Linked DNA regions of Homo sapiens: region 2 is linked to region 1. The links come from fine-mapping of genetic effects on gene expression. A gene starts in region 1. The other region holds a variant in brackets. All regions are shown on one strand. Distances are from middle to middle.

Region 1 (5,385 bases):
ATATTGCTATAAACCCACAGTGGGCCAGAAAAACAAACTTTGTATACACTCCTTGCAAACCCAAGACATGAAACCATGAAATCGAAGGAAATTTACCTATAGTTTCACCAAGTATAATGGAAGCAAATAATAAAGATGAATATGACCAGTAACAATTATATATTTAACTCTGCAAGCTCTGTAAGTAATGTTGTTCTCTTTTTCATTTAGACTGTGAAAATTAATTTTGCCCTTAAAAATGTAAAACAAAAGGAGGATGTTATTTAACCTCAAGGAATCATTTATCTTTGACCATTGTTATTGTTTTCAGTTTCTTTAGGGTTGTAATTATTTATTACAATATATATTTATACAAGTACATGACCACTGTTGAAAATGCTCCTAGTCCTCCTTAAGTCCTTCCATGTTAAGACGGCTCTTCTAAGAAGGCTTCCCTTGACCTTGAGGGCAGAGCTGATCCTCTCTTCAGTCTCCCTCTCTACCCACTGCACCTTGCACATGTCTCTATCATACACTGACATATTTACAACTGCCTCCCCTTAGAGATTGTGAGTTCCTGGACGCTTCCAGCACTTAACACAGAGCCTGGCACATGAAAGGTTCTAAATGCTTGTAGAATAAAATAAATGAATAAATGAATCCGATCCATCCAACCTCTGTAATTTCTTATTTTTTTCACCAGCTTTATCCCAAATGTTAATGACTCACCCAATTCAGTAACACTTCAGACAATTTTCCATTTTCCCCCAATTTGTTTCCATTTCCAGATAAATAAGGATTTCTGACTTCAAGTACTGCACTGCTTAGAGGGTATCCATAAACACCAATTTTAAGAGTAAGAACACTGCTTGCAACTCAGGTTCACACGTGACTTTGTACCAGGTGGCTTTGTATATAGAACAGAAAAGGCCTTGACTCCCCCAAATTCATATTCTCTAACAAAGTGGCATCCACTGCCATGTCACTGTATCATTCTTGCTATCAATATCCACAACAGCTATCACTTTTACAAACGGCTCCCTTCATCATGGAAGGAGGAAGAATGCCCTTGGCAAGGGCAGAGTCCATGAGTTAAATTCACCCTTCTGGAATAAATTATTTAGTACCACTTAAACTCTGAAAGCTTTGAGCCACCTATTCTGTGGTTTGTAGCATTGTCTTCTAAGTTTACAATTTCATGATTGTGAAGCGACAACTTAATTCCCTAGTGCAAAATCAATACAATTTAAATTTACTGTCGGAACTGACATTCTCCAGCAAACTAAAAGATTTCTTCTTCCAATGACATGAGATCATTTTAATCTGCTTTTACAAAAAGGTACTCAGGAACTATTCCAAAATTTAGGAATCAATTCTTGCTGGCCATAAAGCAATTGCCCCCACCCCTCTTAAATGTGTGGGATCCCTGGAACCACCTGAGCTATGGCCACTCTGACCTAGCTTTGACCTGTCAGGGGCCTACATTTTGAATGGAAGTTCATCCTGCAAAAACGCAAGGAGCTGTGGTGGTAGTAACAACAGACAGCCAATAGGGTTTTTAAGCATATTCTTTCACTCGTTTAGGGTTTTTATCATGCAGTAACGTCGATCATCATTTTCATTCTAAATTAGATTATCAGTACAACTGAGGAGGAAGATTTGGTACAGCGATCAACGTTTCCAATGTTAATTTACTGGAGTGATCAGGGACCATTTGCTTTTGTTAATTAGCAAAAGCTGGTGTTGTTAAAACACAACAGTGCGTGACGAATCCGTAAGCTGCATCCTTTTCTCTAACGAACAAAACGGACTGGAAAAGGCAAGAACACACCATCATTCAACCTACAATGAATATTGATTATCCGTTCTGTGTAAGGCCCCTTGCAGCTGCTACGCTCAGGATGAGGATGCTGACTGGGAAGGCCGAGCCGGGTGGGCCTGACACCCTAGATTTAACAAGCTTCCAAGCGCAGGAGTCCCTCTGCATTTAGCTCGTTTTCCTTGCACCTGTCACCGAAAGGCTTATTTCCCTTTCAACTACTCTGAGCGGCCAACAGCTAAAAGAGAAAGCCTCGTGCCAGGAGAAAGAAGGGTTGATCTACACCCAGTTACTAGCAGACAACTGAGGTTCCCTCCCGTTCACCCTTGTGTCCACTGCGCTCCCCCAAAACCAAGAGGTCAGACCCAGCAGCAGCTAAGGCTAGGCCTGGGAGGCAGCAAGAGAACGACCGGGCTCGCAGGCACCCCGGGATGCTCAGGCAATGCCTGCTCCTCCCTCGCCCGCGGTCCAGGCTCCGCCGGTGCCCCTCAAAGCAGTCGGCCTCCCGCGCGCTCAGCATCCCTCCTCCTCCTCCCCCATCTCCTCCCGTCCCTCCTCCGCCCGCGCTGGTGTCACCAACCTTGGGCGTACGGATGTGCTCCATGGCTGGCCCACGTCTGCAGGGTCCCGGGCGGGCGCGGCCTCACGCACCTGCGCGCCTCTGCGGCGCGATGGGAGGGGCGCGGGGAGGGGGCTTCGCGCCCGGGAGTGGGCGGGACGCGGTCTTGGCTCCGCCCCCAGGTGTTCCGCGCGCGGCGTGCGGACCCGGGGCTCCCGCGCGGCCCTAGAGAGCCCACCTCCGCGCCTGCGCCCACCTGCGCCGCCGCCGCGACGCGCCTCTGCCTGGGGTTGCCGGGGCGAGGGCTGCTCGCTCTCTCTTAACAGGGGCAGCCGGCGGAGCACTATACGGCCACTGTTCTCCGAGACACAAAGAGGGCCTTGTTTTGGGTGTGGCCTCCTGGAAGAGAGATGGGGAGTACAGGCTGCTCCACACCGTCCCTGGGCTTCCTTCTAGGGCGTCCTGGGATAGCTAGGATTTCAGGGTGGGGCAGAAAAGAAGGCTGCCACAGACACTCTAGACCCAGGACGGTCTTGTAGGCTCAATGTGTGTGTTTCATCCCAGGCGCGGCCGGCATAGCGCTCGGGGTGCGGGTGGAAATAATAGCAGCAGTGTTAGCGCCTTGGTAAGCGCGCTCCTAAGTCAGGCATCTCACATCCACCTGCGACTTCACTGTTGCAGGCGACACTTTTCCCCTGGCACAGTGTTGGGTGCTCATTTGCCCTCTTTATTTAGCTCCAACTGAACTGAGAGATAGAGATACAAAGCATCCATTATGCGGTACCATTTCCCTATTGATGGTATTAACAGTAGTTGGTGCCATTGTTAGCGTTAGGCCTCTTGGGAAAAGCCAAAGAGAGGAAGAACGCCCTCCATTTTTTTTTTCTTGCAGCCCTAAGAGTACAATGCTCCACCATAAGTGAAATTTTATAGAATTCTACATAGTTCTGTTCAATTTTTTCCTCGCTCTTACTCATCTTTCAGGCTGGATTGTGATTTTTTTTTTTTTTCCGTAGAGACTCTGCTTACCGTTTTTTTATCTAATACCTGGACACATTGCAGCCTTCCAGCAAATAATTAATACGGTGTTGAATTTATTTTTAAAATTCCAGATCCCTCTTTCACAGGTCTTCTACCATTTCATCCTCCTACTGCTTTGGGAGGCAATTAGAACAAGTTTACCATTAGTTTACATTATTAGAAGAACTACTCTGGAAAGCCACAGCTGATTCTTTTGGAAGTGAAAAGAACACTTTCGTTGTTGTTGTCACATAAAGCCACTGAACTTTAACGCTGAATTGAGCCTAGCCTATACTATGTTGAAGTGGAAAGGGAATTTGAGAGTCAAAATAATGCACTGTCTCTACCTTTGTGTTTGTGATTTTTTTAAAGAGGGAGTTGGTAATGCCTTTAAAGATCTCTAGGGACACCTAACCATAAGCAAGACCTAAACTACTTGATTGCAAGTTACCAAACGTCTTCTAGAGAATTCTTCTTATGCAACTTTTATCACATAGATAATTCAGTTGCAAATACTTTTGCTAACAGAATTTTAAAATACAACCTTGATTTTAACTGGGCATTTTCCCAAAATCCTGTGATATTCAATGGCCTGAGGAGATTTGAATTCTTATCAAAAACACTTGCAAGACTTTTTCCAGAATACTTATATTTCTCTTGAGGCAAGGCAAACTTCTGATTTGGCAGTGAGACCAAACCCTGTTTCCTTAGGGATGGTATTGCTAATTATTACAAACTCAATACGATCCTATTCAGCGTAATTAAACCCAAATGGACCATATTATAAGTGGAGGAGGGAACACATCTCTGAATAAACTCAGCCTCATCTGGAGTCACTCAGTATGATAGGGTCAGAGCTGCATTTGGGGTTCTGCCTGGCAAAAAGTAAAAGCGGCCTCTCTTCAGGATTTTTATGAACTCAATGATGCAATGTATCAATGTCTCTGTTGGCCTTGCCCTATAACAAAGATGTGGAGGAAAAGCACTCAGTGGATTGCAGTCAGCTCTGCCCTTTTTCTAGCAGCCAAAAGGGAAATTCTAGGGCAGCATGAAAAGAGTGTTTACTCTGTGAACAGTCAAGGCTTTAAAATAGCCTCCTCCCAAAACTGTGAAACTGCTGGAATAAAACATAGGGGAAACTCTTCAAGACATTGGTCTTGGCGAGGATTTTTGGGATAAGAACTCAAAAGCATAGGCAGCAAAGGCAGAAAGAGACAAATGGGATTACATTAAATTTAAAAGCTTCTATACAATAAAGGAAACGACAGAGTAAAGAGACAGCCTACACAAGGGGAGAAAATATTTGCAAACTACGCATTTGCCAAGGGGTTAATATCCAGAATATAAAAGGAATTCAAACAACTCAACAGCAGAAAAACCAAATAGTCTGATTTAAAAATGGGCAAAAAAAACTGAACAGAGATTTCTCAATATGAGACCTACAAATGACTAACAGGTCTATGAAAAAATACTCAGTATCACTAATGATTAGGAAAATGCAAATCAAAACCACAGTGAGCTATCACCTCACCCCAATTAGACTGACTATGATCAAAAAGACTAACAATAACTAATGCTGGCAAGGAGGCAAAGAAATGGGAACCCTTATGCACTGTTGGCAGGACTGTAAATTAGTACAGCCATTATAGAAAACAGTATAGAGCTTCCTCAAAAAATGAAAAATAGAGCTACCGTACGATCCAGCAATCTCACCAGTGGGTATTTATCCAAAGGAAATGAAATCACTATGTTGAAGAAATATCTGCACTCCCATGTTTATTGCAGCACTATTCACAATGGCCAAATATGAAATCAACCTAACTGTCCATCAATGGATGAATAGATAAAGAACATTTTGTAGAGATACATAGTGTAATACTATCCAGCCACAAAGAATGAAACCCTGTCATTTGTGACAATATGGATGAACCTTGAGGACATTATAAGTGAAATAAGCAAGGCACAGAAAGACCCATACCGTGTGATCCCACTCATTTGTGGAATCTTA
Region 2 (5,385 bases), 200 kb before region 1:
GTATATCTTATGATATTTTAAAACAGAATGGACACCCTATATTTCAGGGCTGTTGACAGGCACATAAGCCCTCACAGTCAGCTAGCCATTGATTTTCAGAGTTTCTTCATTTACTTCAATTATTGATAAATATTCAGGATTGCTAGTAAATATGTTCTTTACTCATGTGATTCCTTTACCATCTTTTTTTAGAGGCATTCAGAAGTCCAGTATTTCGACATGGAACAGATAAGAATGGATTCAGCTTGGGTTTCAGTAAAAACATGCGACAAGTTTTTGGTGATGAGAAGAAGTACTGGTTGCTACCCATTTTTTCAAGGTACTTCTTTGTTAAAATTTTCAGGCTTTAAACTAATGAAAATAATACAGCAAAAGATAGTTTCAGGAAAAGCCTCTAGTTCCATAGGCTTGTAATTCTGTGTAGGAACTCTTATTTTTAAAAAATATTATTCTATGATTCACCATAATATCAGTGTGGAAGTCAGTTAATTCATCATCTTCCTGAACACTATGTTGAGCTCAATGTCTAATACACATTTTTTTTGCCTAGAGTATAGCATGTTCTGCTCTCGGACATCAGCATTTTGGCAGGGTTTCACTCCGTTGTCTTTTGTATGGTTCAGTTCTAAATTTTTATTTTAATTCTAGTCTAGGTGATGGCTGCTCCTTTCCAACTTGCCTTGTTAACCAGGATCCTGAACAAGCATCTACTCCTGCAGGGCTGAATTCCACAGCTAAAAAGTAATCTCATATTTTTTTTCATTTTACTTTCAAATAAGATATTTTACCATATTGTGTCTTTTGGTTATATGTTCCTTTGAAAAAAAATGAAGACCATAAGAAAATTTACTGCAATGGTTTCCACTTGAAATGAGGGAAAAAAGAAAGTATGATTGAGGATACATTGGAAGCTTCAATTATACTTGTAAAATGGTGTTATTAATCTAAGTGTGAGTAAAAAGGTGTTAATTGTCTATACATTTTGGTTGACTGAAATATTTTTTAAATGTAGTGCTTAAAAGAAAAAAAAATGTAAGTCAAAATTAGCTACCCACTGCTCAGGTAGGCAGACAGGGTAAAATCGCCCCTGACCCACCATATCTTTCCTTTCTGTGATAACTGTTAGAGTAAAGAAACTTGAGGCTTTTGGAGATCAAATGGACCCCCAGACACCTTCTTGACAACTCCATTTTAATGTATATTATGGACTTAGTGCCCTTGGAAGACCTCTAAGGATTATCTGAGCCATTTCTGTGGAGAGAGAAGCCAGAGTCTTAGAAATTCATTGTCTGGAGACTTTTGCTCCAGCTTTAAGTTTGTTTTGATTCCAGACTATCAAGAATTTGAGGCTGGCCAGAGAAAGACCTGACATTTCATTCTGAACGTGCTACCAACTGGCAAAAGGAAAAGTTACTTAAACTTTTAAAATGCTATGTATGAATTTTCAGTGGTTTGAAACACCAGTTTTTATACCTTTGTGACAGATTTGAGTATAACCATTCCTCTGATTTTTCAATGAAAGCCAGTAGCAAAAGCATAACCATAATATCATTCTTCATTAAACGTTAGAGCTTTTCTTAGTTGCTGCAGTGCCACATACACAGTATCCACACCAACACTCCATATTGAACATTTCTTACTGATCACAGGACTTTTTCCTAGGGAGCCTGGAGTGACCCCATAAACCTCAAGGCAGTGTTCCTGGTAGCCATTCTAAAGTTCTTTTTGTTGTTGTTGTTTGTTTGTTTGTTTGTTTCCATTTTAGTTTTGAGACAGGGTCTCTCTTGTCACCCAGGCTGGAGTGCAGTGGAGTGATCATGGCTCACTGCAGCCATGACCGCCCAGGATCAAGCGATCCTCCTGCCTCTGCCCTTTTAAATTGGGAATTAAATGTAAAAGGAATTTATATTTAAAATCCTTTTAAATTGTCAAAAGAGATGAAAGGTATTTGTCACCCCATCCCTAGAGTGAGCTATGTACAGGCCAGACCCTACCAGTTAGTGAATGGGCCCAGTGTATATATTTCACAGGGACATTCATGGGCATCAGAGTTTTTTACTAGATCATGCCTTGTGCATTTGGGCTTGAAAATCCCACAGAGCTAAATGTTTATGGTTTTTCATATACCTCAATGCAGAAAAATCTAGTTTTAATAAATTATTCAGAATACGTTTCAAGCTTTTACAAAATTCAGTAGTAGTTTATAATACTTTTTTGCCCTTTGTGTTTTTTTTAATAATTTAAGAAATCATTTTGGTTTTAGAGATAATATTTCTCCTTCCACTAAGGGCACCATGAGATTTGGGAGAAATCTTAGTTCTGACACTGTTACCCAACTGGGTGATCTTGAAGAAGTTAAATAATCTTTTGAGGCCTCTGTTTCCTTTCCTTTGAATGTTGAGGTCAGATTTAGACAGCTAAAGTCTCTTTCTTCTGCGGAATTCTACTATCTCCCATGTTGAGCCCAGATAAAATTTTCGTGGCAAGTTCTGTTCTCTTCTTTACTCCAGAGTTGAATATCTTGCTGTCTACTTGACACACCCACTTGGACACCTAAAAATCATCTCCAACTAAACAGGTTCAGAGCAGAACTTTGAATTTGATTCCCAGCCATGTGTACCCTCATCACCACCCTAAA[C/G]CAGAATCTCCTCCATGCTTCCATTATCAGTATTAGTGACCTCCATTCTCCCACGTGTTCATGCTAGAAACTGTGGGGTCATCCTGGATTCCTCTCTTTCAATTACTTTGTATTTACTCCATTTGCAAATCCTATCAGATGTCTCTTTAAAGTATATCTATAATCTGAATACTTTCTAACCACCTCCAAGGCAGCTTTCCTGGTCCTAGCCCTCATCCCTGCTCCCATGGATTACTTCAGTAGTTTTCTAACTGATGTAACATTTTTGCCCCACTCCAATCTATTTTCCCTTCAAAATATAAGTCAGATTGTGTCACTCTTCTGCTGAAAGCTCTATTAGTTTCCCATCTTACTCGGAATAAAAGCTAATGAATGTCTGTTCCATCACTTAACAAGACTGATCTGACCCCAGACAGTCATTCTTTTTTTTTTCTTTTTTTAATGGAGACAGGGTCTTCCTGTCTCTATTAAAGCAAGTTAGTAATGTCTCTGTTATAATAAAATGTCTCCATTAACAGCCCGTTGCCCAGGCCGGAGTGCAGTTTTGTGATCATAGCTCACTGCAGCCTCACACTCCTGGGCTCAAGCAGTCCTCTCACCTTGGCCTTCTGGATGTCATTCTTTTTTACTTTCCTTTCACTTACAATCCTCAGACACAGATCTTGCTGTTCCTCACATGGACCAAGCATGTTCCTTATGTAGTGCCTTGTCCTTGCTAATTCCCTTTCCTTACCATTCTTCCTCCAGATCTCAGTGAGCTGTGTCTTCTCTTTATTTATATTCTGTTCGGGCGTAACTTCAGAATAGAGGGAATCTTTGATAACCCTTTGTAAAATAGTAACTTTCTCCGCCTCTTCCTGTTACACTGATTTTTTTTTTCTTTTTTTTTCTTTTTTGAGACAGTCTCATTCTATCACCCCGTCTGGAGTGCAGTGACGCAGTCTCGGCTCACTGCAACCTCTGTCTCCCAGGTTAAAGCAATTCTATTGCCTCAGCCTCCCCAGTAGCTGGAATTACATGTACACCACAATGCCCGGCTAATTTTTGTATTTTTAGGAGAGATGGGGTATCACCATATTGGCCAGGCTGGTCTCGAACTTCCTGACCTCAAGTGATCCACCTGCCTCAGCTTCCCAAAGTGCTGGGATTACAGGCATGAGCCACTATGCCCAGCCTGATTTTTTTGATTGTTATAGCTCTTATTATCACCTGACTTATTTCATTCATATATGTATATATTGTTTATTTCTCTTCCTCCATAACAGTGAAATTTCCATAAGAACAAAGACTTTGTTTATTAAAGTGACAGGTGCTCAATAAACATTGTTCAGTGAATGGATTCTTGCCCTTTGCTAGAGTCCTGTTAGCAGTAATGAATCTTCAGAGTCCCTAAACCAGGATCCCAGGATCTGGTTAGTCTTCTGTACCCGTTATATGGTCCCTTTCTTGAAGAAGAATAAGAATTAAAGTAAGATTTTTTATATAATATATTTAAACCTGTGTGGAGATATGCTGTTTTCTGTTTTTTAAGATTTACCTCCAAAATTTTAGTAGGTAGTTGTTAAAGCTGCACAAAATTGAAATATTCTAAAATTTTAGATATGAGGTAATTAAGAAGAAAAAGCATACGCATATATCCTTTAAAAACATAATAGTTACTATATATAATTGAACTCAAATATGTGAAATTATTCTTGAAAGAGTTTTAAGTCGTTTTTTTCTTTTGAATACTGTTACAATTACTATTTCAGAACATTATAAAACATCACTAATAGTTTCTATGCCAATAATGTTTCCTAAGTGAAATATTTTTATGTATACTTTTTCATGCCATCCAATATGTTGATGTATGGCATTTCCACCTAAATTTTAAAGAAAATTCTTCTTAGAAGACTGCTCATTCCCCAGACTGAACATTGGGTTTGTAAGACCTGATAATTTCAGATGTTTTTTATATTCCTGCAAAATAGTTTGCTCAAAGTTGTTGTTTCAGTTTTACAGAAGAAGATAGAGAAAATTGTGTTCAAGACCAGTTAGGCCACTTTAGAAGCTGTAGGCCATTTTTTCCTCAACTTTGTCTTCCTACCATCACATTCATATTTTCTTCCATATCCACATATCACTTACAAAATTAATATTTTTCTGTATTTAAATTGGCACTTATGCTTTTTTTAAACCAAAGTTTATACCACTCTCATAAATGAGAAACTCGCGTAACTTTCTATAAATAGAATATAACTTTAAAAATAGGCCCGGTGTGGTGGCCTATGCATGTAATCCTAGCACTTTGGGAGGCTAAGGCAGGAGGATCACTTGAGACCAGGCATTTGTGATCAGGCTGGGCAACATAGAGAGTCCACTCTACAAAAAATAAAACAAAATAATTAGCTGAGGGTGGTGGTGTGGTCCCAGCTACTCGGGAGGCTGAAGGAGGAGGATTGATTTGAGCGAAGGAGGTTGAGGCCATGACTGCACCTCTGCACTCCAGCCTGGGCAATAGAGTGAGATTCTTCCTCAAAAATAAATACATACATAAAATTGATAATAAAATACTGTTATTAAGTTCTAAGTACCTGCTAAAGCCTGGGGCTGAAGACTATTCTCTGGAGATTTTCCAGTGTTAGAGATTATCATCTTATGGTAAGCAGAAGAAGGAAAAGAGACTGAAGATAGAACACTTTTCTCACCGCGAGTCAGTGCTATTTAATGTCTTATTCTTGTATTCCCCACGTTATTTTGGGTACCTC

Which allele goes with the higher level. Alleles are on the strand shown, and positions count from the first base shown. SD is a standard deviation of normalised expression in the study named.
For the expression in skeletal muscle of the gene that starts at base 2,461 in region 1, C is the high allele of the variant in region 2 and G is the other (moderate effect, 0.66 SD a copy in GTEx).

What was found. PIP is the estimated chance that this variant, and not a neighbour inherited with it, causes the effect.
Region 2: its variant is fine-mapped to the expression of MTMR7 in skeletal muscle (GTEx, PIP above 0.99).

Annotation. Positions count from the first base shown.
Region 1 is chr8:17,410,891-17,416,275 of GRCh38, forward strand. It overlaps MTMR7 (myotubularin related protein 7), which reads right to left and starts at 2,461. Exons shown (of 14, transcript NM_004686.5): 1 at 2,379-2,461. The coding sequence starts at 2,402.
Region 2 is chr8:17,209,740-17,215,124 of GRCh38, forward strand. ZDHHC2 (zDHHC palmitoyltransferase 2) reads left to right here. Exons shown (of 13, transcript NM_016353.5): 9 at 193-319; 10 at 649-741. Among named protein-coding and RNA genes, the nearest start is that of CNOT7, 34 kb to the right of the region's middle. The variant C/G (reference allele first, on the strand shown) is at 2,639.